Regions from separate parts of the Homo sapiens genome. Here region 2 is linked to region 1. Evidence: fine-mapped expression QTL. A gene starts in region 1. The other region holds a variant in brackets. All regions are shown on one strand. Distances are between the middles of the regions.

What was found.
Region 2: its variant is fine-mapped to the expression of RPA1 in whole blood (TOPMed, PIP above 0.99). The same link has a PIP of 0.9 or more in T cells and lung.

What each region holds. Positions count from the first base shown.
Region 1 is chr17:1,822,417-1,838,117 of GRCh38, reverse strand. RPA1 (replication protein A1) reads right to left here and starts at 8,113. Exons shown (of 17, transcript NM_002945.5): 1 at 7,992-8,113. The coding sequence starts at 8,024. SMYD4 (SET and MYND domain containing 4) reads left to right here and starts at 8,216. Exons shown (of 11, transcript NM_052928.3): 1 at 8,216-8,392; 2 at 10,112-10,257. The coding sequence starts at 10,124. RefSeq lists enhancers at 6,717-7,217, 14,034-14,173 and a silencer at 7,845-8,364.
Region 2 is chr17:1,888,906-1,904,606 of GRCh38, reverse strand. It overlaps RPA1 (replication protein A1), which reads right to left. Exons shown (of 17, transcript NM_002945.5): 15 at 12,667-12,774; 16 at 9,512-9,598; 17 at 4,525-7,536. The coding sequence ends at 7,432. Among named protein-coding and RNA genes, the nearest start is that of RPA1, 67 kb to the right of the region's middle. RefSeq lists enhancers at 259-308, 389-438. The variant G/C (reference allele first, on the strand shown) is at 6,952.

The sequences.
Region 1 (15,701 bases):
ATTTCTCCATGTTGGCCAGGTTGGTCTCGAACTCTCGACCTCAGGTGATCCGCCCGCCTCAGCCTCCCAAAGTGCTGGGATTACAGGCATGAGCCACCACATCCAGCCTAGCAAAGATTTCTTAGGACACACAAACACAACTCTGCAAAAAACAAAACAAAAACAAACAAAAAAACACAACCTGATAACTTGGACTTCATGAAAATTTAAAAGTGCACTTCAAAAAAAACAAAATTTCAAAAAAGAAAAGGCAAGTCACAGATTGGGAAAAAATATATGTAATATTTATATTTAACAAAAGACCTAGCAAGAATCAAGAATTCTCACAACTCATTAATAAGCACAAAACCCAATTTTTAGGTGAACAAAAGATGTGAACAGACACTTCTTTCGTGAAGATATACAAATGGCCAGTAAGCCCACGAAAAGATGCTCAACGTCACTAGCCACCAGAGAAATACAAATAAAAGCACAGTGAGATACCATTACACATTCACTAGAATACTCGAAATCAAAGACTGATGACTGGCAAGGATATGGAGCAACTAGAATTCTCATGATCACACTGGAAAAGGTTGGCGATTTCTTTTACACATTCAGTTACCTGTGACCCAGCAATTACATTCCTAGATATTTATCCCAGAGAAACGAAAACATATTTCCACAAAAAGAGTTGTACTTAAATGGTCATAGCATCTTCATTTATAATAGCCAAAAGATGAAAATAACCCAAATGTGCAATAATAAGTAAATAAACAAATTTTGTTATAGTCATACAATGGAATACTACTGAGCCATAAAAAGGTGCAGATTACTGAATTAACATGGGTAAATCTCAAAAACCATTTTGGTCCACAGTGGTGGCTTGTGCCTGTAACCCCAACACTTTGGGAGGCCAAGGTGGGAGGATCACTTGAGCCCAGGAGTTCAAGATCATCCTGGACAACACACCAAGACTCCATCGCTACAAAAAATATTTTTAGGCCGGGCGTGGTGGCTCACACCTGTAATCCCAGCACTTTGGGAGGCTGAGGCGGGTGGATCACGAGGTCAAGAGATCGAGACCATCCTGACCACCGTGGTGAAGCCCCGTCTCTACTAAAAATACAAAAATTAGCTGGGGATGGTGGCATGCGGCTGTAATCCCAGCTACTCGGGAGGCTGAGGGAAGAGAATCGCTTCAACCCAGGAGGCAGAGGTTGCAGTGAGCTGAGATTGCGCCACTGCACTCCAGTCTGGCAACAGAGCAAGACTGTGTCTCAAAAAAAAAAAAAAAAATTTTTTTTTAATTAGCCAAGAGTGGTGGCATGCACTTGTAGTCCCAGCTACTCAGGAGGCTGAGGTGCGAGGATCTCTTGAGTTCAGGAGGTCAAGGCTGGAGTGAGCCATGACTGTGTCGCTGCACTCCAGCCTGGGTGACAGAGACCCTACCTCTGGGGAAAAAAAAAAAACTGCTGAAAGAAGCCAGACACAAAAGGATAGATATTATTTGATTCCATTTATATGAAGTCTTAGGAAAGGCAAAACTAACCTACAAAGGTAGAAACCAGAACACTGGTTGCCTAGGGTGAGGATGGAGGTGGGGAAGGAGCAAGAGGAGTTGTGCGTTGATGGAAGTATTCTATATCTCCACAGGGGCAATGTGGTTACAGGGGTGCGCACATTTGTCAAAGTTCATCAAGCTGTACATTTAAAATACGTGCAATTTGGCCGGGCATGGTGGCTTATGCCTGTAATCCCAGCACTTTGGAAGGCCAAGGCAGGAGGAGCATCTGAGGTCAGGAGTTCGAGACCAGCCTGGCCAACATAGTGAAACCCCATCACTATTAAAAATACAAAAATTAGCCAGGTGGTGGCGTGCACCTGTAACCCCAATTACTAAGGAGACTGAGGCATGAGAACTGCTTGAACCTGGGAGGCAGAGGTTGCAGTGAGCTGAGATCACGCCACTGCACTCCAGGGTGACAGGAGGAAACTCTGCCTCAAATAAATAAATAAATAAATAAAAAAGGTGCAATTTACTATACGTAAGCAAAATGTCAATGACAGTGATTTTTCTAAAAAGCAGTTATTCTGGGGAACAGTACTGGACAAGGTAAGGCAGGAGGTCAGTAATTACATTAAACACCTCTTTCTTTCTTCTTTCTAAATGAAATAGAGACAGGATCTTGCTATGTTGCCCAGCCTGGTATCAAACTCTTTCTTGGCCTCAAGGGATCCTCCTGCATTAGCCTCCCCAAGTGCTGAGAGTACACATGTGAGCCACCATGCCCGGCCATGAACACCTTTCTGTTCCGTTTGATTTTAAAACCACGTGCATGTATGAGGGGGATTCAAAAAGTACACGAAAAATGTGCATTATGAAAAAACTATGCATGCATTTCAAAAATTTTTTTTGCACTAAAATAAACTCATACTAACTTGTTATAACATGTCTGAACAAGACCTAGTTTGAGGTACTAAGAAGGATAAGACATCAGTTTGAAAAGAGCCCCTATCAGAGCAACATGAATTCTGCTAAAATGGAAACAACAACAAACAACAAATTCAAGGGGAAGGTTGGGTGGAAGAAGGATGAGATCACTTATGAAAGAAAAGTATATGGGGACGATGCTCCAAAGAAATCAGCTGTTTACAAATGTAACTCATTTTAAGGGACAAGGCCAGGCACAGTGGCTCATGCCTATAATCCCAAAGACTTGGGAGGCAAGGCAGGAGAACTGTTTGGAGACCAAGAGTTAGAGACCAGCTTAGGCAAGATGGCGAAACCCCATCTCTACACAAAATTAAAAAAAAAAAAAATTAGCTGGGCATGGTGGCATGCACCTGTACTCCCAGCTACTGGAGAGGTTGAGGTGGAAGGATCACTTGAGCCCAGGAGTTGGAGGTTGCAGTGAGCTATGATCATGCCACTGCACTCCAGCCTGAGAGACAAAGAACAAGACTCTGTCATTTAAAAAAAATTACGGCCAGGTGCAATGGCTCAAGTCTGTAATCCCAGGACTTGGGGAAGCCGAGGCGGCAGATCACTTGAGGCCAGGGGTTCAAGACCAGCCTGGACAACATGACGAAACCTCATCTCTACTAAAAATACAAAAATTAGCTGGGCGTGGTGGCGCACGTCTGTAATCGAGAGACAGAGGCAAAAGAATCACTTGAACCTGGGAGGTGAAGGTTGCAGTGAGCTGAGATTGTGCTTCTGCACCCCAGCCTGGGCAACAGAGTGAGACCCTTTAAAAAAAAAATCCCTAGTAAGTATATAAAGCAACAAATGTAATACTCAAGGGCACATGTGTTCAAATCTTCACCCCATGGACACATTATTCAACCTCTCTGTACTTCCTTCCTCTGTAAAATGGGAGTATAATAGCTATCTTCTAGGGTTACTTAAGTACTGACTACTAAAGCATCTGTCACATTAGAAATAGTCAAAAACATTAGTTCCCTTCCCCTTTCGTTATATAATTAAGATACAAATGCTATGTATTCTGTTGACCACAAGAGTTCTATGCATCATCTCTTATTTTATCATGTGACTCTTGCCCAAACGCCTTCACATGTGTGTGGTATTTGCGTACCCTTTGTGGCCTGTGTCTTTTGAACGAAAATGATACCTGCTTTAGCTGATAATGAAAGTCAGCAAAGGTTCTCCAACTCATTCCATCACCACAAACACATGTGAAACTTTCATTCTTCATTTATGAACAAAATACTTCACCTACGCTGGAAATAGGTTTATAAAATTTTGAATATAAAAACATGGCCAGGTGCAGTGGCTCACATCTATAATCACAGCACTTTGGGAAGCTGAGGCGAGAGGATCGCTTAAGCCCAGGAGTTTGAGACTAGCATGGGCAACAGAGTGAGACCCCATCTCTAAAAAATAAAAAAACTTATCAAATTATTTAAATATCTCCATGATCATTCTTTATTTTTTTTTGAGACAGTCTCACTCTGTCGCCCAGTCTGGAATGCACTGGTGCAATCTCGGCTCACTGCAACCTCTGCCTCACGGGTTCAAGCAATTATCCTGCCTCAGGCTCTCAAGCAGCAGGGATTACAGGCACACGCCAACACACCCAGCTAATTTTGTATTTTTAGTAGACCAGGGTTTCCCCATGTTGGCCAGGCTGATCTCGAACTCCTGACCTCAAGTGATCCACCTGCCTTGGCCTCCTAAAGTGCTTAGATTACAGGCATGAGCCACTGCGCCTGGCCCATGATCAGTCTTTTTAAAAGTGAAGAACCATTCTTTTCTTTTTTTCTTTTGAGATGGAGTTTTGCTCTTGTTGCTGGAGTGCAATGGTGCGATCTTGGCTTACCGGAACCTCTATCTCCCGGGTTCAAGAGATTCTCCTGCCTCAGCCTCCCAAGTAGCTGGGATTCCAGGCATGCGCCCCCACACCTGGCTAATTTTGTATTTCTAATAGAGACAGAGTTTCTCCATGTTGGCCAAGCTGGTCTCAAACTCCCAATCTCAGGTGATCTGCCTGCCTTGGCTTCCCAAAATGCTGGGATTACAGGCGTGAGCCACTGCGCCTGGCCTAGAAACATTCTTAATTTGTCTTAAAGACACAAGGTAGCAGCTATAAAGTAAATGAAAGCTACAATTTAAAATCACTTCCCCGGTTTCAGCATTCACACATTCCTAATTTATTTAAATATTCACTTGAGTCCAACAATAGTTCTTCCTGTTCCTGTTTTTCCCCCAAGCTGCCTTTCTTCCCCATTCACCTGTCCCTTTCTTCCCACTGCCTCATTCATTCATGCAACTAGCAAGCATTTATTCAGCACCTAAAACTTGCCAGCACTTCTCCAGGTATTGGGGATACAATGCAGAGTAAAATAACCCAGACATGATTGCAGGCCTCATGGAATTTACACAAAGTATTAGGCCAGGCACAGTGGCTCAAGCCTGTGATCCCAGCATACTGGGAGGCCAAGGTGGGTGGATCTCGAGGCCAGGAGTTCAAGACCAGCCTGGCCTACATGGCGAAACCCTGTCTCTACTAAAAATACAAAAATTAGCAGGGTGTGGTGGTGGGCACCTGTAATCCCAGCTTCTAGGGAGGCTAAGACAGGAGAATCGCTTGAACCCGGGAGGCAGAGGTTGCAGTGAGCCGAGAATGTGCCACTGCACTCCAGCATGGGCAACAGAGCAAGACTCTGTCTCAAAACAAACAAACAAACAAACACAATAATTTTAAAATTTTAAAAAGAAACTGATAAATCAACAAACATAAAACTGCAATTATTAATAGGTAACATAAACACTGAGCATTTACTATGTATCAGTGTGCTAAGCACTTTAAATTTAATAACTCACTCCATCCTCCTACTTACCTTATGCAATAGATATCATTGCTCTCATTTTACAGAAAAGAAACAGTTTAGTATCTTGCCTCAAGTCATGCATCTAATAAGTGAATGGGGTCGTGCGCGGTGGCTCACGCCTGTAATCCCAGCACTCTGGGAGGCCGAAGCAGGTGGATTGCTTGAGGTCAGGAGTTCGAGACCAGCCTGGCCAACATGGTGAAACCCCATCTCTACTAAAAATACAAAAATTAGCCGGGCATCATGGCAGTCTCCTGTATTCTCAGCTACCTGGGAGGCTGAGGGAGGAGAATTGCTTGAACCCAGGAGGCGGAGGTTGCAGTGAGTCAAGATCGTGCCACTGCACTCCAGCCTGGGCAACAGAGCAAGACTCCATCTCAAAAAGAAAAAAAATAAATAATTCAATAAGTGAATGAACAGGAATTGGGGTCTCAAAGGGATTTAGCCTAGTAAGGGAAGTCACAAATGAGCTGAGATACGAAGATAGTGTTTGCCAGTGTGGGGAAGAGTGAAGAACCACCCAGGCAGTGGGCAGAGGGAAAAAAATGTTCAGGGCCGGGTGCGGTGGCTCACTTCTGTAATCCCAGCACTTTGGGAGGCCGAGGAGGGTGGATCACCTAAGGTTGGGAGTTCAAGACCAGCCTGGGCAACATGGTGAAACCCCCGTGTCTACTAAAAATACAAAAAATTACGCAGGTGTGGTGGTACATGCCTGTAATCCCAGCTACTCTGGAGGCAGAGGCACGAGAACTGCCTGAACCCAGAAGGCAGAGGTTGCAGTGAGCCGAGATTGCGCCACCGCACTCCAGCCTGGGGCGGTAGTGGGGGGGTATGGGGAGAAAGAGTGAGACTCTGCCTCAAAAAAAAAAAAAAAAAAAAAAAAAAGGCCGGGCACAGTGGCTCACGCCTGTAACCCCAACACTTTGGGAGGCCGAGGCGGGCGAATCACAAGGTCAGGAGATCGAGACCATCCTGGCTAACACGGTGAAACCCCGTCTCTACTAAAAAATACAAAAAATTAGCCGGGCGTGGTGGCGGGTACCTGTAGTCCCAGCTATTCGGGAGGCTGAGACAGGAGAATGGCGTGAACCCAGGAGGCAGAGCTTGCAGTGAGCCGAGATCGCGCCACTGCCCTCCAGCCTGGGCAACAGAGCAAGATTCCAGCTCAAAAAAAAAAAAAAAAGTTCAAAGGCCCCATGGAAGAAGGTAGGAGTATGGAATATACCAGAAATCTAAATTTAAAAAAAAATGTGGGGGTGACTGGAGAGGTAGGCTGAGAGTATGCTGTGGATGGGAATGGTGGCAGGAACGTATGCTGAGTGGAAGTCAGCAGCTCAGGCAAAAAAAAAGACGGTGCCAGTATGGATGGAGAGAAGCCAGTGGGCTTGATAGATCTACGCAGAGGCAAAATACACTTCACTTCGTGAGGGACTGGATGCCCAGGTAATGGACAATATAGGAGGAATGATTTCTCAATTTCTGGTTAGCACTGAACTGAATAGATAATGGTGCCATCCGTGGAGATAGGGATCAAGAGGCCCAGACTTAGAAAGATAAAGAATTTGCTTTGGGATACGTATACTGAACTTAAAACCCTCTGAAGCATGGAATAAGCAGACAGATGACGGAAGTTTGTCTTTTAGAGTAAAGGTGGCTCTGTACAAAGAAATTTGTGAGCAACTGACATATATTAATAGATGGCAATGGAATTGCCTTGGGGCCAGGCGCGGTGGTTCATGCCTGTAATTCCAGCATTTTGGGAGGCCGAGGCGGGCGGATAACTTGAGGTCTGGTGTTCGAGATCAGCCTGGCCAACATGATGAAACCCAGTCTCTAATAAAAACACAAAAAGTAGCCGAGTGTGGTGGCGCACACATGTAGTCCCAGCTACTCGGGAGGCTGAGACAGGAGACTCACTTGCACCCGGGAGACGGAGGTTGCAGTGAGCCGAGATCGCGCCTCTGCACTCCAGCCTGGGCGACAGTGAGTGTCGCCCAGGCTGGAGAAAAAAAAAGAAATTGCCTCGGGAGTCAAGAGGGCCTAGAGGGAGCCTTGATTCAACAAAAATTTACAAAGAGGGACTTACAAATAAGACGGGGATAGACCTGCCAAGCTGAGCCACTAAAAACCAAGGAAGAGGGTGTGACCTGAAGCAAGCAGGGCTTAAACGCAAACGCTGCTGAGAACTCAGGTAAGCTGAAAACGGAAAAGGGCTGGATTTAGCAACTTGGAGGCCACTGGTACCTTCAGCCAGGGTTTTCTACAGCGATCAAAGGGATGACTGGAGTGGGTTAAAGAGTTGATGAAAGGCGAGGAAAGGAAGTGGCTGAAACCAGACAAGAAGTTTGGCTGTGGGTGGGGAAAGGAGAAGAGACAGAAAGTGTCCGCAGGTGGAAGATGCAGAGAAAGGCAAGCGTTTATTTAGTTTGTTCTTACGTAGGAAAAATGTGAGCATGTTTTAAAGACGATCGAAAGAATGCTTTGAGGAGGGGGCGATGACACTAGAGGGACGCCCGGCGGGTCCCCACCGCCCCCCGCCATCTCCTCCCCTCGCGTTCATCCCCCGTCGCCCCGGGCTCCCCTCCCCCTCTCTACTCCGCGAGGCTCGGGGCCGCAGCCACCCCGGACCGCCGGCCCAGCCCCCGGCACCTCCTCACCGCAATGGCCCCCTCGCTCAGTTGGCCGACCATGGCTCCACCGCCAAGACTTCCCCGCGGACCCCGCAACAGCTCCAGCTTCCCCACCCGGGTCCCGCGCGCTGCGCAGTTATTGGCCCGAGAAGTTGCGCGCACCGCTCCCGCCCCCGACGTGCGCGCGGCTCAGGGGCGGGCCCGGGCGCTACGCAGCCGCCGCATTGGCCGAGGCGCGGCCCACGTGACCCACCCATGGTCCCAAGCGAGGCCTGGCGCGGGACGCCGGACGCGGTGCGGGGCGGAGCGGGGCGCCAAGGGGCGCGCCAGGAGCTGCGCGGGCGCTGGGAGGGAGACCAGGGCGCAGTTCCGGGCGCGTCTGAGCGGTTCTCGAGGCGTTCTCGCCTCGGTCTCTGGCGAGTGCACGGGTTGGTATCCCAGAGGAGGTTAAAGCTGTTCCTTGAGACCTCCGCTGCTAAATAGAGTCGCAGTAGTGACCCGATTCGTCCAGCAACGCGGGGCTGACTTCCCGCCTCCAAGCCCTGAGCTTGGCACCGTGGCGGTGGGGGGTGGGGGTGGGGGGTCTCCGAAAGGGAATCAGACCCGGCCCCCGTCCTTAGAGAAGAGGACAGTGTGTGGGGGCACTTTATGCCGTCAGTAACCCCACCTCCAGGTAGACGTGGTACAGGCCCCAAGGGTGTTGGAATCACAGCTGGGAAATCAGGGACGCCGTCCCGGAGGAGGTGCCATTTGAGCCGAGTCGAAGAACGTGTGGGAATTTTCCAGGTGGACTCCATAAGCCAGGGTAGGGTTGGTCCGGAAAGCATGAGTAGCCTATGCCAAAACATTGGAGAGTTGAAATAGCCTGGCAAGCCGGGGATAGCAATGAGTTGTTCAGTATGCAAGGGTGCATGCAGAGGAGTAAGTGACACCTGAGAATTAGAAAGTCAGACAAGGGTCAAGTAAGGATGGTTTTGTCCTGGGCTTCCTGGTATGCTTGGAGTAGCGTTGATGAATTTAAGGGCAGAGCACTGACTTCTGTCTCAGTGTTGGAGGCTGGATTGAAAGTGGGGAGTGGTGCCAATGGCATGGACATTAATTATAACACTCTAGGAAGAATGCCAGACGAGATGGTGAGGACTTAATCAGAACGCTGAACTATGTAAGAGAGGGAAATACCTTGTTAAATGAATAGTTGCTGGGGTGGGTGAGAAAGAAAAATCTGGGATGTGTCTCAGAGAAACTAGAGAGGGATCAGGCCGGGCGCGGTGGCTCACGCCTGTAATCCCAGCGCTTTGGGAGGCCAAGGCTGGCGGATCATCTGAGGTCAGGAGTTCGAGACCAGCCTGGCCAACATGGTGAAACCCCGTCTCTACTAAAAATACAAAAATTAGCCGGGCGTAGTTGCGCGCATCTGTAATCCCAGCTACTCGGAGGCTGAGGCAGGAGAATTGCTTGAACCTGGGAGGCGGAGGGTGCAGTGAGCCGAGATGGTGCCACTGCACTCCAGCCTGGGTGACAGAGCAAGACTCTGCCTCACAAAAAAAAAAAAAAGAGGATCTAAGAGCACAGATGGTAGCTATCTAGTCTGCTTCGTCTTTGTATAACCATCACCTGCATGGTGCCTGTGACAAAGTAGTCTTTCAGTAAATATTTCTGAATGGAAGGATGTTGAGTGAATTGCTGTGAGAAAATATAGATCCTTCCTTAGCATATAAACTAGAGGAAAAGACCACAAGAATTGATTTTATTGTTTCAGGCTTCCTTGAATGAAATCTTGATTTTCCTTTTTTTTTTTTTTCCGAGACAGAGTCTTGCTCTGTCACCCAGGCTGGAGTGCAATGGCGTGATCTCAGCTCACTGCAACCTCCGCCTCCCCAGTTCACGCAGTTCTCTTGCCTCAGCCTCCCGAGTAGCTGGGACTACAAGTGTGCGCCACCACACCTGGCTAATTTTTTTGTAGTTTTAGTAGAGACGGGGTTTCACTGTGTTAGCCAGGATGGTCTCCATCTCCTGACCTCGTGATCCACCTACCTCGGCTTCCCAAAGTGCTGGGATTACAGGTGTGAGCCACCGTACCTGGCTGAACTCTTGATTTTCTAAAATTGTGCATTTGTAAGATTCCTATTTTCTTACTCATTTTATAGATCAAAAGCAGCATGGATCTGCCTGTGGATGAATGGAAATCATATCTGCTTCAAAAGTGGGCTTCACTCCCGACGTCTGTTCAGGTCACAATTTCTACAGCAGAGACCTTGAGGGATATCTTTCTTCACTCCTCTTCACTTCTTCAGTAAGTAAATCAAGCTTTAACAAGGGAATTGTGAGCCAAAAAATGTTCTATTTTGTCATTTGCTCTGAAGTAATGTGTCTTTTTCTTAAATAAAGATTGAGTCTTGCTTGTTTCCCAGGCTGGTCTCAAATTTCTGGGCTCAAGCAATCCTCCCACCTTGGCCTCCCAAGGTGCTGGGAGTACAGGCGTGAGCCACCATGTCTGGCCTGGTAACATCTCTTTTTGATGGAAAATGCCTGAAGTACTTTTCCTGGTTCGTTTCTATCCCAGCGTGTCCTGTGAACTAATTCACTTCTGTCATCCTGCAGGATTAGCCAGATCTTTCCTCAGGAAAGCTCTCCCTGAGCCTCAGCTGGGCCATCTTCACTCTTTGTACATTTACAATGCTGTGTGATTTTCCTTTATATATGTGTGTGCTCTTTTGACTAATGCCTGCCTTTGCCGCTAGATTGTGAACTTCATGAGGGAAGGGACCGTGTTTGTATTTGTTTTTCTTTTTTTTTTTTTCTTTTTTTCTTTTTCTTGAGACTGTCTCGCTCTGTCACCCAGGCTAGAGTGCAGTGGCGCAATCTCAGCCCACTGCCTCCGCCTCCCGGGTTCAGGCAATTCTCGTATCTCAGCTTCCCGAGTATTTGGGATTACAGTCGCACACCACCATGCTCGGCTAATTTATTTATTTATTTATTTTTATTTTATTTTATTTTTTTTGACACAGGGTCTCACTCTGTCACCCAGTCTGGAGTGCAGTGGCACAATCTCAGCTCACTGCAATCTCCACCTCCTGGGTTCAAGCGATTCTCATGCCTCAGCGTCCCAAATAGCTAGGATTACAGGCGTACACCATCATGCCCAGCTCACATTTTTGTATTTTTAGTAGAGACAGGGTTTCACCATGTTGGCCAGGCTGGTCTTGAACTCCTGCCCTCAAATGATCCGCCCGCCTCAGCCTCCCAAAGTGCTGGGATTACAGGCATGAGCCACTGTGCCCGGCCTGTTTGTCTTTCTATAGACAAAAATAGTGCAGTGTCAAAAAATAAGTGGTTAGTAAACATTAATTGAATGACAACTTGGTAATGTATATAAAGTTCTTAGTTTAGTTACTGGCTGTTATTAGTGCTTAAAATGACGTATAAAGCAGAACCTTATATATTTGCAGATCCAGAAACACACACCTTTCACGTTCAAGGTTGATGTCTTTATCTTTGTGCCAGGCACATAGTAGGCGCTCGTATATTAATTGAATGAAATAATGAGTTCAGTTTTGAGCCTTGCCAGTTCAGATACTCGGTACAGTTAGGGTTATACTTTTTTTGTTAGTCTTCATTTCTTTTCTTTTCTTTTCTTTTTTTTTTTTTTTTTTTTTTTTTTTGGACAGAGTTTTGCTCTTGTTGCCCAGGCTGGAGTGCAGTGGCACAGTCTTGGCTCACTGCAACCTCCGCCTCCCAAGTTCAAGTGATTCTCCTGCCTCAGCCTCCCGAGTAGCTGGGATTGCAGGCGCATTCCACCATACCCGGCTAATTTTGTATTTTTAATAGAGATGGAGTTTCGCCATGTTGGGCAGGCTGGTCTCCAACTCCTGGCCTCAGGTGATCCGCCCGCCTTGGCCTCCCAAAGTGCTGGGATTGCAGGCATGAGCCACTGCGCCCGGCCCCCCAGTGCATTTTTATTTCTCGTGTGTATTGCCTATTTGTGTCCCTTGCCCATTTTCTAGCAGGTTGTCTTTATTCTCTTGTTCATTTGTAGGAGATCTTCATAAATCTAGCTGTATAGTTCTTTGCTATGTAAGTTACTATTTGTTGTATAAATTATTCCCAATCTGTTTATCTTTTTTACCCTATTTACAATGTAAATGTTTTACATTTACATTGTATATAAATTGTGTATATATGTTTCAAATTTTTAAATTTCATTTAAAATTTATTTTTAGACACAAGGTCTCAGTATGTTGCTCAGGCTGACCTCAAGCTCCTGGGCTCAAGCGATCCTCCTGTCTTCCTTAGGATGGTGGAGTGAACCATCCTAAGCAAGACACAACCCAGAAGGTATAAAAGAAGATGAGGTTGGGTGCGGTGGCTCATACCTGTAAACCTAGCACTTTGGGAGCCAAAGGTGAGAGGATTGCTTGAGCCCAGGAGCCTGGGCAACATAGTGAGATTCCATCTCTATAAACAAATTTTAAAAATTAGCCAAGCATGGTGGCATGTGCCTGTCGTCCCAGCTACTCAGGAGGCTGAGGTGGGAGGATCACTTGAACCTGGGAGGTCAAGGCTGCAGCGAGCCATGATTGTGCCACTGCACTCCAGCCTGGGTGACAGAACAAGACTATTTCTCAAAAAAAAAAAAAAAAAAGAAAGAAAATGACAGATATGGCTGTATAAAAATGAAGCCAGACAACATGACATGTGCCTGTAATTCCAACTACTTGGGAGTTGATAAAAATGTTCATTGTTTTCTGCTAACATTTTTTTACCTTTAGCTCTCTAATCCTTCTGCACTTTTTCCTCCATCTTTATTGAGGTATAACTGACAAAATATACGTTTAAGGGGTACAACATTATGTTATGATGTATGTATACATCTCCAATTGATTTTGTGTACTATGTGAAGGAATATTCTCACTTTTTTTCCAGGTGGACAATTTTTCTGTAGCATTTAATGCATGACGCATCCTTTCCCCAGTGCTTGCAAATGCCTCAGTTATTAAAATTAAATTCCTACTCATGTTACTCCATTCTCACGTTGCTATCAAGAAATACCCAAGACTGGGTAATTTATAAAGAAAAGAGGTTTAATTGACTCACACATGGCTGGGAAGGCCTCAGGAAACTTACCATCATGGTGGAAGACGAAGGAAAAAAAGGCACAGCCCTCACAGGGTGGCAGGAAGGAGAAGTGCTGAGCAAAGGGGGAAAGCCCCTTATAAAATCATCAGATTTCACCGGGCGCGGTGGCTCACGCCTGTAATCGCAGCGCTTTGGGAGACTGGGGCAGGAGGATCACTTGAAGTCAGGAGTTCAGGACCAGCCCAGCCAACATGGTGAAACCCCATCTCTACTAAAAATGCAAAAAAAAAATTAGCCAGGCATTGCGGCATGTGCCTGTAACCGCACCTACTCAGGAGGCTGAGACAGGAGAATTGCTTGAACCTGGGAGACGGAGGGTGCAGTGCGCTGAGATTGTGCCACTGCTCTCCAGCCTGGGCAACAGAGCAAGACTCCATCTCAAAAAATAAAAATATAAATATAAATAAAATAATCAGATTTCGTGAGAACTCACTCACTATCACGAGAACAGCATGGGGAAACCACTCCCACGATTCTGTTACCTCCCATCAGGTCCCTCCGACAACACAGGCTTCTGGGAAATAACAGTTCAAGATGAGATTTGGGTGGGGACACAGCCACGCCATATCACTACTTATCCACAAATTTGTTTCTAGGCTCTAGATCTGTGCCGGAACAAAAGGGTTTTAATTACTGTGACTTTATAGTGTATTTTATTAGTATTATTTTTCTTTTGAGACTGAGCCTCCCTCTGTCGCCCAGGCTGGAGTGCAGTGGCGCAATCTCAGCTCACTGCAACTTGTGCCTCGTGGGTTCAAGCGATTCTCCTGTCTCAGCCTCCCAAGTAGCTAGGGTTACAGGCACACGCCATCATGCCCGGCTAATGTTTGTATTTTTAGTAGAGACGGGGTTTTACCATGTTGGCCAGGCTGGTCTCAAACTCCTGACCTCAGGTGACCCATCCACCTTGGCCTCCCAAAGTCCTGGAATTACAGGCGTGAGCCACCCCACCTGGCCTATAGTGTCATTTTAGAAACTCTAGAACTCTTCAGTTTCAAGTAACAGAAACCCCCTTCAAAGTATGAAACTTTTAGCTATGAAACTAGGCTATCTGAAGGGAGATCTATTTTCAGGCTAGGTTGTATTCAGGGGCTCAAAGGATGTCATCAGAATGTGTATTTCTTCATGTGTCAGACAGATTCTCTCCATCTAGTGGGTGCTATAACCATTCACAGCCCTGGGCACACCCTGATAGTGTAATAACACCCCAGGGGAAGAGGCTGTCTTTCTGAAGTTTCAGCAGAAAACTTCTGGGTGGGGCTCAGGTCAACTGAATTTTGATCACATGCACATCCCTTCAACCAGAGGTATGAGACTCCTCTGATTGGCCAGGCCTGTGTCATGTGCCCAACCCTGCTGTGAAATGGGGTCTACCCTTCTTCAGCCTCAAAAAATGGATTCCCCACTGAGATTTACCGGAAGTAGAGAGAAAGGGTACTTGAAAGCAGGGGAGTCTCAGTACCCAGGCGGCTCCCAGGAAGTGGCCCAGAGGCCAGCTTCCTGCTCGCACACACATAGTCATTGTTCGTATTCCAGAATATCTTGGGTATTTTGTGTGCATTTCCCCCATGTGAACTTTAGAATTGGCTTGTCAAGTTCTTTTTTTTTTTTTTTTTTTTTTTTTGAGACGGAGTCTCGCTCTGTCACCCAAGCTAGAGTGCAGTGGCGTGATCTCGGCTCACTGCAAGCTCTGCCTCCTGGGTTCATGCCATTCTCCTGCCTCAGCCTCTCGAGTAGCTGGGACTACAGGCGCCTGCCACCACGCCCAGCTAATTTTATTTTATTATCTTTTTTTTTTTTTTTGTATTTTTAGTAGAGATGGAGTTTCACCACGTTAGCCAGGATGGTCTTGATCTCCTGACCTCATGATCCACCCGCCTCAGCCTCCCAAAGTGCTGGGATTACAGGCGTGAGCCACCGTGCCCGGCCAGCTTCTCAAGTTCTATAAAAAATGTTGTTGGGCTTTTGATTGGGAATGTGTTGGATTTATAGATTCACTTAAGGAGACCTGACATCTTTACAATATTAAATTTCCTAATCCAAATAAAGGGTATGTCCATTTCTTTAAGGCTTCTTCTATGTCCTTAAGTAAAGTTTTATAGTTTTCTTTATATAGGTCTTACACATTTCATGTTCGATTTATTCTTCTTGTAAGGTTTTTGTTGTTATTGTGAATAAGGCTTTTCCCCCCAATTACATTCTCTAATTGGTGATTGGTGGTGTAAATAAAAGGTAAGAGTTTTTAAATCATCTGACCGGGTGCAGTGGCTCACACCTGTAATCCCAGCATGTTGGGAGCCCAAGGCGGGTGGATCACCTGAGGTCAGGAGTTCAAGACCAGCCTGGGCAACGTGGTGAATGAAACCCTGTCTCTACTAAAAATACAAAAAATTAACTGGCCATGGTGGCGGGCACCTGTAATCCCAGCTGATACCATGGTGGGTTATGGTAGCCTCAGAATGAATTGGAGAGCTTCCCGCCTTTTTCTGTGCTCTGAAATAGCTTATATAATGTAGGAATTATGTGCTTCTTAAAGGCTAGTAGAAAAATTCTGTAAAACTATGTAGACCAGATGCCTTAGTGAAAATATTTTCCTTCCTT
Region 2 (15,701 bases), 66 kb before region 1:
GCCTGTTCTAACTCCATTTCAGGGCTGGGCATTGAAGAGCACAAAGCTGCAGTTCCCCGCGGCAAGCCCTCCTCTTTAACAGGCACCAGCCCCCTAGGTTACCTGGCCGTTGAAAGGAAGCTGCAACACACATAAGTTAAATATAGGTTTGGTTATTTGCATTTTACAAGCACCGAGAATGTTATCTGAGGAAGCTGTCATTTTTAATGACAGCACAAACTTCCAATTACCAACTGGGTAATGCACTAGGGAACGGGCATAATTTTATAAGAACGGCTCGCAATTATTAAAAGTTTACACGATCACTTCTGAGTTGGCTATATAAATATTTCTCACGAGGCAGGTGGGATTCAGTTTTTCACAGGGTCTATTCAAGGCTGAAAAAAAGATTTGTTTTATTGAAAAGTATACATTTTGAGACTCATCAACAGCTAAGGAGAGGGTGTAAAGCGACAGCTACTAAGAGCCTGAGAAGCTGCAAATGCAGCCAGGTGGCTGGTTCAAAGCCTCTCACAAACACCCACGAGCTCACTGGCAAGTCAGACACTGTCACGACAAACCCAATGCAGGTTAGGGGTATGGCAATGGATAACACAAGAACCTCTTACTGGCCGGGCACAGTGTCTCACGCCCGTAATCCCAGCACTTTGGGAGGCCGAGGAGGCCGGATCACCTGAGGTCGGGAGTTCGAGATTAGCCTGGCCAACATGGTGAAACCCTGTCTCTACTAGAAATACAGAAATTATCCAGATGTGGTGACACACGCCTGTATAATCCCAGCTACTCGGGAGGCTGAGGCAGAAGAATCGCTTGAACCTGGGAGGTGGAGGTTGCAGTGAGCCGAGATCGTGCCATTGCACTCCAGCCTGGGCAACAGAGAGAGACTCCATCTCAAAAAAATAAAAAATTAAAAAAAAAAAAAAGAAACTTTCACTCAGCCCATAGTCAAACACTGTCCTATTTGCACCAGGAACCCATTTCCGTTCAGTACCTCTACCCAGCCTCCGTGGCACCGCGTGGCTTCGTGTCAGTGACGAACACAGCGCATGCCACTGTTACCAGTGTTGCTCTCGGTCTGCCTCATACAGACCGGACAGCCCCGACCTAAATGAAGGCTCTAATCAGTGAGTCTCAAATCACCCAATTCTTTGTGAAGTCTTTCCTGATTGACTCCAGTCTTCCAGCAATTTCCCCCTCAACTGCATTTTAATATCACTGTGATATGACTACTTAGCCCCCAAGCCTTGCTCTAAATAGTCCATAGCTCTCAGGGACAGATATCTTTAAGTCACACACTGGCTGGGCGCGGTGGCTCACGCCTGTAATCCCAGCACCTTGGGAGACCAAGGTGGGCGGATCACCTGAGGTCGAGAGTTTGAGACCAGCCTGACCAACATGGTCTCTACTAAAAATAGAAAATTAGCTGGGCGCGGTGGCATATACCTGTAAATCCCAGCTACTCGGGAGCCTGAGGCAGGAGAATTGCTTGAACCTGGGAGGCAGAGTTTGCAGTGAGCCAAGATCACGCCATTGCACTCCAGCCTGGGCAACAAGAGCGAAACTCCATCTCAAAAAAAAAAAAAAAAAAAAAAAAAGTCACATACTAAGGCTGGGCGTGGTGGCTCACGCCTGTAATCCCAGCACTTTGGGAGGCAGAGGCGGGCAGATCACGAGATCAGGAGATTGAGACCATCCTGGCTAACACGGTGAAACCCCGTCTCTACTAAAAATACAAAAAATAAGCTGGGCATGGTGGCGGGCGCCTGTAGTCCCAGCTATTTGGGAGGCTGAGGCAGGAGGATTGCTTGAACTTGGGAGGCAGAGGTTGCAGTGAGCCGAGATTGTGCCACTGCACTCTAGCCTGGGTAAGAGTGAAACTCCGTCTAAAAAACAAACAAACAAACAAACAAAAAGACCCCAAAAAATCAGCTGGGCGTGCAGTAGTCCCAGCTACTCAAGAGGCTGAGGCAGGAGAATCACTTAAACCCAGGAGGTGGTGGTTGCAGTGAGCCGAGATCGCACCACTGCACTCCAGCCTGGGCGACAGAGACTCCATCTCAAAAAATAAAGTCACATACTGACAGGCTGGAACCATGAAGACGAGTGGCTACATACTTTTCTCAATGACTTTTCAAAACCATCATTACAAATATAATTACAAGACTTAATAATCATTAATAGCTTTAGATAATCAGGTTGATTTATAGGCAAGTCAAATGTATTCTCAAGAGGCCTTCTTTGCCAGGGTGGTGGGAAACAAGAGTTTCGCCTCTTCATAGGCACAGCCCCCGTCTGTGTAGTAGGCAGGATGAAACCAGGGCTCCAAAGCCTTCTTTTTCCCTCCCCTCCCTACATTAATCTACCTGCTTCCAAGGAAGGACCTGCTCAAATTACCTACCAGCCCTTGGTGGTACACAGGGTTAGAGGAGTTATCCCTGGACTTAGGCAAAGAAAAATCAATGAGAGAACCTAACAGAACAAGAAAAGGCATGGATTGTCAGTGCCACAAAGCATAAACGCTTCTGCTCGTGAAATCTTGAATTTATAACAATTAGAAAAAGTATAAGCATCCTGCAAGAGTGAATTGGCTGAAAACACATCCAAAGAGCCAAACACCACTTAAAATTATTTATCTAAAGCTATTAATGATTAGTAAATCTTTTAATTATGTTTGTGATTTTTTTGTTTTGAGATGGAGTCTCCCTCAGTCGCTCAGGCTGGAGTGCCATGGTGTGATCTTGGCTCACTGCAGCCTCTGCCTCACGGGGAGGGACTCTCTTGCTTCAGCCTCCCGGGCAGCTGGGATTACAGGGGTGAGCCACCACACCCGGCTAATTTTTGTGTTTTTAGTAGAGATGTGGTTTCACCATGTTGGCCAGGCTGCTCTTGAACTCCTGATCACAAGTGATCCACCTGCCTTGGCCTCCCAAAGTGTGGGATTATAGGTGTGAGCCACTGCACCTGGCCTAATGGTGGTTCTGATGCAATTTTTATCAAAATAAAGATGCCCATCCTAGGAGAAAATCATTACAAAATGATATGCTTACTATGCTACCATTTTTAATTTAAACTCTATACACATAGATACATAGAAAAAACTAGCCAGGGCCAGGCACGGTGGCTCACACCTGTAATCCCAGCACTTTGGGAGGCCGAGGAGGGCGGATCACGAGGTCAGGAGATCGAGACCATCCTGGCTAACATGGTGAAACCCCATCTGTACTAAAAATACAAAAAATTAGCTGGGTACGGTGGCACATGCCTGTAGTCCCAACTACCAGGCTGTAGTCCAGCTACATGCCTGTAGTCCCAGCTACTTGGGAGGCCAAGGCAGGGGAATTGCTTGAACCCGGGAGGTGGAGGTTGCAGTGAGCTGAGATCGTGTCACCGCACTCCAGCCTGGCGACAGAGCAAGACTCTGTCTCAAAAAAAAAAAAAAAGAAGAAAAAAGTAGCCAGCTACACAAGTGTTTATTACTGGTTGGTGAAATCCTAAGTAATTTTATTTTTCTTTTGCCTTTTTGAGATGGAGTCTCGCTCAGTCGCCCAGGCTAGAGTGCAGTGGTGCGATCTCAGCTCACTGCAGCCTCTGCCTTCCAGGTTCAAGTGATTCTCCTGCCTCAGCTGCCCGAGTAGCTGGGATTACAGGAGCCCACCACCACACCTGGCTAATTTTTGTATTTTTAGTAGAGGTGGGGTTTCACTATGTTGGCCAGGCTAGTCTCAAACTCCTAACCTCAGGTGATCCACCTGCCTTGGCCTCCCAAAGTGCTGGGATTACAAGGGAGAGCCACCGCACCCACCCTTTCTCCCCCTTTTTTTGAGATAGGGTCTCGCTCTGTCGCCCAGGCTGGGGTGCAGTGGTGCAATCATGGCTCACTGCAGCCTTGACCTCCCACGGCTCAGGTGATTCTCCCACCTCAGCCTCCCAGGTAGCTGGGACTACAGGTGTGTGCCACCACGCCCAGCTAATTTTTATTTTTTTGTAGGGACGGGGGTCTCCTTATGTTACCCAGGCTGGTCTCGAACTCCTTGGCTCAAGCGATTTGCCCGCCTCAGCCTCCCAAAGTGTTGGGATTATAGGCATGAGCCACTGTGCCAGGCCAATTTTGTTTTTCTTAACTGTAGATTATTTTCCTAAAATAAACATGGAGGCCGGGCGCGGTGGCTCACACCTGTAATCCCAGCACTTTGGGAGGCCGAGGCAGGTGGATCACAAGGTCAGGAGTTCGAGACCATCCTGGCTAACACGGTGAAACCCCGTCTCTACTAAAAATACAGAAAATTAGCCAGGCATGGTGGCACATGCCTGTAGTCCCAGCTACTCAGGAGGCTGAGGCAGAATCGCTTGAACCTGGGAGGCGGAGGTTGCAGTGAGCTGAGATCGTGCCACTGCACTCCAGCCTGGGTGACAGAGCAAGACTCCGTCTCAAAATAAATAAACAAACAAACAAACAAATATGATTACTTGCATAAGAAAGTCAATAGTCCAAATTATCCTTTTTTTTCTTAAACATTTACTTAATGTCTTAATAACAAAAATACCAGTTTTTTTGAATAAGTGAAAATTAAACATCTATGCTCTCTTTTTGAGGAACCGATGACTTCCAAAGGTGTTTATAAAAGCCAGAACTCTACCAGCGGAGTGGATATAAGACTAAGAGTTAACAAACCACATAAAAGGTGGCCGGGGAGTGGGGGGAATCTTCCCTTTGAGACAAGGAAACAATCAGTTTACTAGGGGAATAGTGGCCTTCTAACAGGTGAAAAGAAGAAAAGGAGACCAAACAACCTGTTTCATCCTCTATAAATAAAACCTTGGGCGGCATATTGCCAAAGAAACATGAGTCAATATAAACCTTTACATACTGGGCGGCCAAACTTCACTTTTGGACAGTATATTAATTATGTAGTCAATAACCATGGGTTTCATTAGTGTATTAAATACCACGATCAATAGTATTTATACTTTTTGAAGACAGCCCACTCAGGAAACAGAAGTGGGGGAGGGGAACATTTTTGACCCTGCAGTTCAAAAAAGGAACAGCACGCGAGAGATTAGCAAGGTTTTAATGGAAAGCATAAAACACTGGAAATATGGACAGAAATCAGATTATTACCCTTTTATTTTTTTCCCTGCCCCTTTCACAATGAGACTGGAGGGAATTCAAGAACCACTTGAAATAAAGGCGAAATGATTAGATTTTTTTCTCCTAATTGCCTAACGCTGATGTCATGGTGTACGCAAAATCAACATTGATCTCTAAGTGAAAGAGGAGAAACAGAACAACATCAACAGCCTTTCGAGGTAAACTGTGGGCCAGAATCTATTTAGGCAACCCGCAGGGACCAAAATCTCTGAAAAGCCCAACAGTGGAGCCAGTTTCTGATGCTCCTCTGCTGGTGATCTGATCTTTGAGTGGGGAAATCTGTTAGAAACAGCCTCCTCGAGGGAGCCCTCCCCCTGGCACTGCCCCTGGGTTCCCAATCACATCCACGGAGACGTGCTGGTTTCATCACGCTGGCCACTGAGAAGGCGCGAGGACAGGTGTCAGCGTTCCCTGGACACGTCCTGTCCTGGTACCACGGCTGGTCAGGCCTCTTCACTGTGTGGACAGACACGTGGGGAGAGGAGGGAATGCTGGGAGTAGTAGGCATGAAAGACTGGTTACTGGGCTGAAAGCTAGATCGCCACTTCCCAGCCACAATTTGTCAATCCAGAAGAGGGTTGAAGACTGTAATTTTCTCGTCGATGCTTTATAAGCAAGGTCAGACAGAAAAGAACTTCCGTAAAAATGGCTGAGGCCTCAGTCAGAGACTGAAATGCGACCCAGTTACCATCTCCTGAGACTAGAGAAGGGTAGGAAGGAATGTGTCTAAACAATTAGTGAGGCTGAGCAGGAGTCCCTCTGTGTCTGTCCTCAGGAACGGAAGTCATCCCGTCTAGGGCTGGCTGGCCCCTATGTCAACGGCAGACACCGAGGGGGGAGACAGACAGGACACCATCACTCCCCATATCCAAAAGCCTCCGCAGGCGGCATGTGCAGTGATGAACAGCAGGTCCTCTGGCTGCAGAGTGACCGCCGCACTGCCGGGGTACGACGGCGAGATGTGCGGCCAATGGCAGGCGGTGTGTTGCAGCCACCGGATAGATAATTAATATGATTAGGAACACACAGAGCGAGCATGCTTTTGCTGACTGAAAGGCCCACTAGCATAATTACTGTTTTCTTACCAGCTCACTGTCTGTACACATTTCAAAGCGTGGTTGGTGTTAGACTGCTGCGTAAACATCAATAAAATCCCAAGTGCCAGATCATCAGCATCCTCAGGCAAAATGGCTTTTTGTTTTTAGTGTTTTCATGCTTTGAAAGATGCATTTCAGGGCTGCAAACACTAGGAAGAAGGATCTCCATGCCTTGGACTAATCTTCGGGTTTATAATGAGTTAACATCCCCCCCAAGTGAACATTTATTATGAAGGCTAATTAATTGCTTTCCAGTTATAGGAACTCTTTGCATTCAAAGAAAGTAGGATTCACAACCAAAGAATATACTGTTTATTAAAACAAAGCAAGGGAAACAAAAGGCTTCAAAATCCTTTCCATGTAACATAGCTTTAGTCAAAAAAAACAAAATACATGAATGCAGGAATGTGTACAGGTAGAAAAAGTACGCACTCACCAAGCGAAGCGCAGCATTAATTGAAGTGAGAAGTAAAGAAACGCTTTGTAGCCGCTCGGATTTCCTTAGGGGACGGCAAGTCAATGCTTATCAGCGGTCCTCAGAAGAGACAATTTTGATTAATATCAGACCCATCTGACTCAGTCTATTAAACCCTGAAGGAAGGATACTCTTCAGATATAGAAGATATGCCTTTGATTAATCATTCTACCCTATTGCCATTCCAAGCATTACCAACTATGTAGCACCTCTAGAAAGAGAGAGCCTTC[G/C]AATTCTAGGAAGACACACTTACTAAAATCCCCAGGTGCTCATGACCGCTTCTCAGCTCGCCCCGCTGAGAAGAACCCAAGTTGTGAGCGGGGATGGGGGGGGGTGGTCACCACTGGAGAAGCAAAAACCTAGTTACATAATTTACTTCATGGTCTGCAGTTAGGGTCAGTGACTTACGACATAATTCCTGCTTGATGATAATGAAATTGACAGAAGCCTGAAGGCAGAGGGAGTGACTGGTCTTGCGCTAGCCACTGGCTGACTCCGTAGGCCTGACACAGTCTACACCACAACCACCTGAGCGTATTTTCCTTTGCCTACCGATGGGTTCTGAGATGCGCACGAGGGGGGAAATTGCTTAGTCCACCATCAAGAGCCTCTGCACTGTGTAGCTAACATGGGATCGTCACACGGAGGTGGGAGGAAATCGATTCCATTCTGCCTATTTGCAAACTTCTGCCCGATTGGCACTGCTCCTCTCACATCAATGCACTTCTCCTGATGCTCATGACCAGCCTTCGGCCATACTCTCTGTAGTCCACGGGCTTCACGTCCATCACAGTGGCCTTAATTCGAGACTCGTCCTTCAAAAAGGGAGAAGTAGTTTGTGAGCAGTGAAAGTGTGGTGTGGAGCAGTGAAACCCCTTTTGCTTCAGTGGTTTCAGTGAGCCCAGCGGGAGGGAACAGACGCACGGGTTCAGAGTTCAGTCATTCCAGTGAGTGACAGCCTCCTCCTGAATGTCTGGGGCTGGGCGAGTGAACAGGTCCTTTCTCCAGCACAGGCCCTTCTGATTCTTTACCCAAGCTCCCAAACACCCAGAAGCCTAGAATCCTAGTGAGATGGACTTTAGAGGGTTTCTCTAGTTTCATTTATTCTCCCTACTGCAGGGGATACAGCCCAGAGAGGACATGTGACTTGCACAAAGCCACACAGCTAGTTCTGAAAGCTAAACTTTCAAACTTTCATTTCAAGAAAAGCTGAGTGGTGAAAGGAAGAGCACCTGCAGCAGAGGGAGAGGACCGAGTCTGTCCTGTCTCAGCTCTGGGGAGGCAGCCTCTCTTCACTTCACCTTCCCTGTCCAGACACGATGGGGCTGAATGGCCCCAAAAATCCCCCCCAGCCCCACCCCACTCCCTGACATTGTTTCACGGTGACATCTGATCCCCTATCTCATTTAATGTTTATAGTAGTCGCAGAAGAACGGGCGTTAAGGTAAATACGTGAGTAAACCCTGCAATCAGCAGGGGCGTTTCTACCACTCCCCCTGCCCACTCGTACGTTTACACTCACGGCCTGAATGGTGCCTTTCCGGGCAGAACGGAGTGATACCCAGGAAGGCTGCACAGGCGAGCTCGGGGCTGTCACACTGCTGTGTGCTTGGTCGGTACTAAATCCCGTGATACTCGTAAGCATGATCAAAAGCAAAGCTCTGAAGTCAGGCTGCCTGGGTTGGACGTTAGCTCGACCACTTGCTAGCATACAACTTAGGCAAGTGACTTGTTCTCTGAATGCCCGTGTCTCTCTGTATGTAATTCCTTCAGTGGCAAAATAGGGTAACCACAGTTTCTACATATAGGGTTACTAGGCTCAAGTGAGATGTTCCACGTAAAGGATGTAGAACAGTTACCTGGCAGACCATGCTCAATACTGTTTGATTATAACTATAACTAAGCTGGGCGCGGTGGCTCATGCCTGTAATCCTGGCACTTTGGGAGGCTGAGGCGGGTGGATCATCTGAGGTCAGGAGTTCGAGACCAGCCTGGCCAACATGGTGAAAACTCCGTCTCTACTAAAAATACAAAAATTAGCCGGGCATGGTGGCGGGCGCCTGTAATCCCAGCTACTCGAGGGGCTAAGGCAGGAGAATCACTTGAACCCGGGAGGCGGAGGTTGTGGTGAGCCAAGATCGTCCCACTGCACTCCAGCCTGGGTGACAGAGACTCTGTCTCAAATAAATAAATAAATAAATAAATAAATAAATAAATAAATAAATACTATATGGTATTATGGGCAATTTCAGGAATTTTCAAGGTAGTTTTAACCACACGTGGCCTTTGTTTCATATACTGACTGACTGACTTAGAAACGGGGTTTCACTATGTTACCCAGGCTGGCCTTGAACTGCTGCCTCAGTCTCCCAAGTAGCTGGGACCACAGGCACACACCACCACGCCCGGCTCATATACTTAATATACTTTTCTACAATCTAAATTTGTCAAAGATATGACTCTACTGCATGCGTTATAATTTTTTTGTCAGAACACAGACGAAAAAATCCTAGGATTTAACTGAAAAAAAATAAAAATAAAAAAAATAAACAAACAAAAAAATCCATATTGTATTCCCCACCCCCCCGCCATTGTTTCGACAAGACACTTAAGCTCTCTCTCCTTCCTCATCTGAAAATGGGGATCATAACAGCACCTGTGTTGGGCAAAGTCAGCACCGGGGTCTGGCAGTGAGTACAGTAACTCCCTGCCAGGGAGTGTCACGACACTGCCGTAGGTGACAAACAGCACCTCCCCACCACCAACCCTGCTGCCCAGGCCCTTACTTACGTTGTAGGTCTCCACTTTGACCCTGACTCTGAATATGAAAGATCGGAAGTTGGCATTCTGGAAAACTTCTTCAAATGCCTGTTCATTCTGCAAAAACAAACATAAAACTTGACACATGGAAACCACTGGACAACTTGCAAATACTGATAAGACTTTTAAAAAGACTTCTGAAAATGCATCTCCTGGGTAGTTTCAAATTACTTAGGAATGACTCATCTACAGGTAACATTACATGAAACTGTTTTAAGTAGAATCTTATTGAAAATTAAAACACTAATCACATTCATAGAAGGTAGAATGGCAGTTGTCAGGGCCAGGGAGAAGAGGGTTTTGGAAAAGGAGCTATTGCTTAATGTGCAGAGTTTCAAATCGCCACCCATGAACAGTGTGTCTCCATTCTCCCCTTCCCTCCATCCTTGGAAAACACAAGGCTGTCGTCTGTCTCTATGAATTTGCCTATTTAAAAAAGTACTGGAAAAGGATGGTGGTGACAGGGGCACAGTAATGTGAATGTACCTAACGCCACTAAACTGTACACGTAAAAATGGTTACAAAGGCAAATTTGGTTATGTATGCTTTACTAGACACAAAAAATTAAAAACGCTCTTAGGAAGTTTCTAAGACTTTAAGGCTGGGCACGGTGGCTCATACCTGTCATCCCAGCGCTTTGGGAAGCGGAAGCGGGTGGATCACTTGAGGTTGGGAGTTCAAGACCAGCCTGGCCAACACGGTGAAACCCCATCTCTACTAAAAACACAAAAATTAGCTGGGCATAGTGGCAGGTGCCTGTAATCCCAGGTACTAGGGAGGCTGAGGCAGAAGAATTGCTTCGACCTGAGAGGCGGAGGCTACAGTGAGCTGAGACTGCACTACTGCACTCCAGCATGGGCTATGGAGCGAGACTCTCAAAAAAAAAAAAAATTAGGAGGTCAGGTATGGTGGCGCGTGACTATAATCCCAATGTTTTGGGAGACCGAGGTGGGAGGACTGCTTGAGGCCAGGAGTTCAAGAATAGCCTGGGGAACATAGCAAAACCCCATCTCTACCAAAAAAAAAAAAAAAAAAACTTAAGCCAGGTATGGTGGCGTGTACCAGTAGTCCCAGCTACTCAGGAGACTGAGGTGGCAGGACTGTCTGAGCCCAAGAGTTTGAAGCTGCAGTGAGCCATGATCGCACACCACGGCGCTCCAACATGGGTGATGAGGCAAGACCTTGTCTCAAAAAAAAGAAAAAAAGGAAAAACACTCAGAAGAAAGTTCAATATAATTCGTGATTTCAGCCTCTGTATTTATAGCTACTGATTTGGTGTGCAAGCAGAGAAGACTGTTGAGGTGCGCAAAGGCTAGGGAAGGCCTAAAAACAATCCTTTTCCCTCTCTCACTCCTCAAATGCAATTTAAGTTTATTAAAAAAAAAAAAGTCTGGTAAACAGACAAGAATTAGAGAATATAGTTTGTATAAAGATGCATAAATAAATGTGTAATAACTATATTAACAGAGTTGATTGAGACCTTTGACAAAAAAAAAGAAAAACTAATTAATAGTTCACACCAACCTAGTGTTTTTTGCAAGTCACGCACGGCGTGAAAGCAGCTTTGCTATACAGAACTCTTTTCTGTAAAGGTTACTTGATCAAAACCCAAACCCAAACCAAATGGACTTTCAGATATGAAAATAAAACAATGGGTTAAAGCTTGAGAAAATTACACCGGCTGCCATTATGCTTCCAAGATGAGGGGCGTGGAGTGCGAACTCCAGGATCTCACGGTTCCTCGGGGAAGTTTCTATATGTCCTCATTCACCGGCAGAAAAAACAGTCAAATATAATAAGCTCATAAAAATCCTGAAAGGCTTACTCGGGCCTTAAAATCTGATACGAAAATTGAAGACCAGGTAAAAACAGACAAAAGATACTATCACACTTTAAAGTCAATTCTAGTTATTTCTGTAACAGGATTTGTTGAGACTATTTTGAGAGCTCTCATGGACAATTTAAAAAAAGAGTCAGGGCAGAGCCCAAACAGACAGAACTGGGGACAGGAAGAAAAAGAAAAACACACCAGAACAAATGGCAAAGCCTTTCATCTTTGTGGCCTTTACAAGTATTCCAACCAATTTGGAGGAAATCGGGGGAAAAGCCATCTACAGAAAGGTGCCCATTTATGTGGCCCAGAAAACATAGCTTTTATTGGTCTTCCTTATGTTTTACCTGAGCAACTACCTTTCCTAAATTCAGCATTATTAGCAATCTATTCTGTACATTAAATAAACCTAATATGTGAAAATGCAAACTTATAAAAATGAAATGGACAAAGTTACCTTACGGAAGAAAGTCACCGCATAAGAATTGCATCTGATGGGCTGAAATGGCAGGCACCTTATATGTGCATTTATTATTATTGTTTTATAGGACAGACCCAGGAACTTGACATACGTGCATTTTAACCAGGATCTGACTCAACTTTTCTGGAAGGTATTTACTATGTTAAAAAAGCATGCCTGTAATAATTCAGGTTGTTTCAGGGACACCTCCCGACCTAAGTCATCTCAGGCACACTAGCTCTGATGTGCTAATAGGAACAGGAGAAACGGGTGGCTTCGATTTAGAAAGTGCTTTGGTTTTAAAGTACTTTTATATACATTATTTCACTGTTAAGCACATCCCAAATGGACAAGATTAGATAACATCAGATGAGCTCTTAAATAATTATCAGGCTGAGAAACTGTATACAAACAATACCAAAAAGAAACAAACTAAAAAATATTAAACAGCAAAAAGAGGGCCAGTGTTGGGCAAGGTGTGGTGGCTCACACCTGTAATCCCAGCATTTCGGGTGGCTGAAGCGGGCAGATCATGAGGTCAGGAGTTCGAGACCAGCCTGGCCAACATGGTAAAACCCCGTCTCTACTAAAAATACAAAAACTAGCCGGGCATCGTGGCGGGTGCCTGTCATCCCAGCTACTCAGGAGGCTGGGGCAGGAGAATCACTTGAACCCGGGAGGCGGAGACTGCGGTGAGCTGAGATCGCGCCACTGCACTCCAGCCTAGGAAACAGGGCAAGACTCCATCTCAAAAAAAAAAAAATGTGTGGGGTCAGTGTTATAGAATGAGAACCATTAAAAGTTATAGAAGTTATAATAAAATATGTGGCTGACCTTGTCTTTTAATTCCCCAAGATAAGCAGCATTTTGTCCAAGGATAGCTTCAGCAGACTCCTGGAAACAAGTCACCCACTGATTCTCTTGAAAATCTGCAATATTTACCTAAAAAACACAATTCTACATTATTTCAGCAAAGAAATAATAAAAAGACACACTGAGAAGATGGGGAGAGGTTAATGTTCTTTTTCCACTTATTAAAATAATTTCCAGAGAGGGCCAGGTGCAGTGGGCTCATGCCTGTCATCCCAGCACTTTGGGAGGCCAAGGCGGGTGGAACACTTGAGGCCAGGAGTTTGAAACCAGCCTGGCCAACATGGTGAAACTCCGTCTCTACGAAAAATACAAAAATTAGCCAGGCATGGTGGCGGGTGCCTGTAATCCCAGCTACTCAGGAGGCTGAGGCGGGAGAATCACTTGAACCCGGGAGGCGGAGGTTGCAGCGAGCTGAGATCGAGCCACTGCACTCCAGCCTGGGTGACAGAGAGAGGCCCATCAGATTAGTTCCTGTCGAGGTGCAGCTGGCTTTGGATGAAGGGTTTTGAGTGAATCGGGGGAGTTCTCTGCATTTTCAATTGCCCACTCTGTAGTTCCTAGGAGGAGTTCCATGAGACGGCTCTGTCACTGCTGGGCACCCAGACAACTGAAGAGCCTGCCCGTGAGCCTCTGTCAGTCACCAAATTGACCTGGCAAAGGAAATGAGCAATCAAATGTCTCCCACTGGGCTGTGGTGTAACATTAAACAGGGCAAAGTCAAGGAAGAAAGCAGATCTCAAAGAATCCACTTGCTGAAGTAAAAGCCTTTGTAGAAACACGAGTGGTTTTTCTTTAAGGCATCATTTTGACGATTTTACATCTTCATTTTGCATGGGTACAAGGCTTTTAATAGAGAGAATGTTATGACGAAAAATAAGGTGACGAAACCAGTTAAAAGTGAAAAGCGCTCTCAATACACAGCAACGGTATCACACCCTGGGCTCACACTTCCTTTAACCCACGCTATCCTTCTAAGAAGCAAAGAGCATCTCATCACACAGGGCAAGAACTACAATGACGCACACGTGTGATAAATATCAAATCAAACAAGTGTGCGGGAGATTGCGCTGTGGAGTTTAACAGAAAGGCTGATGTTTCCACAAACTAAAACAAATTTTCTTCATCTTAGTTCAATGAAAAGTTTATAGTTTACAAAAAATGAGCCTAAACGTAGAACTGTCCTGCTAAGCTAACATTTCATTTTATTTATCATTTATTAATTTAATTTATTTATTTATTGAGATGGAGTCTTGCTCTGTCACCCAGGCTGGAATGCAGTGGCGCGATCGTGGCTCACTGCAAACTCCACCTCCCGGGTTCATGCCATTCCCCGGCCTCAGCCTCCCTAGTAGCTGGGACTGCAGGTGCCCGCCACCACGCCTGGCTAATTTTTTTGTACTTTTAGTAGAGACAGGGTTTCACTGTGTTAGCCAAGATGATCTCGATCTCCTGACCTCGTGATCCGCCTGCCTCAGCCTCCCAAAGTGCTGGGATTACAGGCGTGAGCCACCGTGCCCGGCCTATTTATTTATTTTTTAAAGACAGGGTCTGACTCTGTCACCCAGGCTGGAGTGCAGTGCCACGATCATGGCTCACTGCAGCCTTGACCTCTCGGGCTCAAGCGATCCTCCTACCTCAGCCTCATGAGTAGCTGGGACAAGTGCATACCACCACAGCCAGCTAATTTTACTTTTTGTAGAGACAGGGTCTTGCCATGTTGCCCAGGCTGATATCGAACTCCCAGCCTCAAGCAATCATCCTGCCTCAGCCTTCCAAAGTGCTGGGGTTACAGGCACAAGTCACTGCGCCTGGCCAATATGAACATTTTTCAGGCTTCTGATATATTACTGCCAAATCATCCTTTGGAAAAATGTGAAACTGTTTTCTTTTTCTCTTTTCTTGAGATGGAGTTTTGCTCTTGTCGCCCGGGCTGGAGTGCAGTGGTGTGATCTCGGCTCACTGCAACCTCTGCCTCCCGGGTTCAAGCGATTCTCCTGCCTCAGCCTCCCGAGTAGCTGGGACTACAGGCACCCGCCACCACGCCCGGCTAATTTTTGTATTTTTAGTAGAGACAGGGTTTCACCATGTTGGCCAGGCTGGTCTCAAACTCCTGATCTCAGGTGACGCACCCGCCTCGGCCTCCCAAAGTGCTGGGATTACAAAAGTGAGCCACTGTGCCCGGCCTTAAACTGTTTTCTTAAACTGCTATTATCGCCTAGTTCTATCATTGAAAACAAAACAAAACAAAATAAAAATCTTAAGGCCGGGTGCAGTGGCTCAGGCTTGTAATGCCAGCACTTTGGAAGGCTGAGGTGGGAGGATGACATGAGGCCAGGAACTTGAGACCAACCTGAACAGCAGAGCGAGACCCTGTCTCTACAATAAAATAATTTTAAAAATTAGCTGGGTGTGGTGGTGCACAGCTGTAGTTGCAGCTACTTGGGAGGCCAAGGTGGAAGGACTGCTTAAGCCCGGGAGGTTGGGGCCACCATGAGCTGTGATGATACCATTGCACTCTATTCTGGGCAACAGAGTGAGACCCCTGTTTCTTAAAAAAAAAAAAAAATTTTTTTAAACCCAACTTTACAACTTTTTTAAAAAGGTTTTTAAAACAGAAAGAAACAATTCTTAAAATGCAAAAAAGCAACAATCTCACATCAGCACACCGTCACATTCCTCTGAAGTCAGCTATACTAAAGCTAGAGAATAGATTATCCACATGAAAGTGACTAAATACGGGCATTGGCTGTGTAAGTACAATTAGTGCTGTCTATAAATGCCGTTTTCAAATTAATTTATCTTCATAGCAGTTAGCAGGCAAGTGTCACTGACGCTATGGCTGTATGACGTGCATGAAAGACTGAATCAGCTGGGGTATCTCAACACCACTTTCTGGCATGAAAAAGCGGATGGATAAGCTCTTCCACACCTACTCATCTGCGGGCTTCCTACCAGGAATGCTTTGTCTCTACTGTTGTGACCACAGTGCCTGGCAC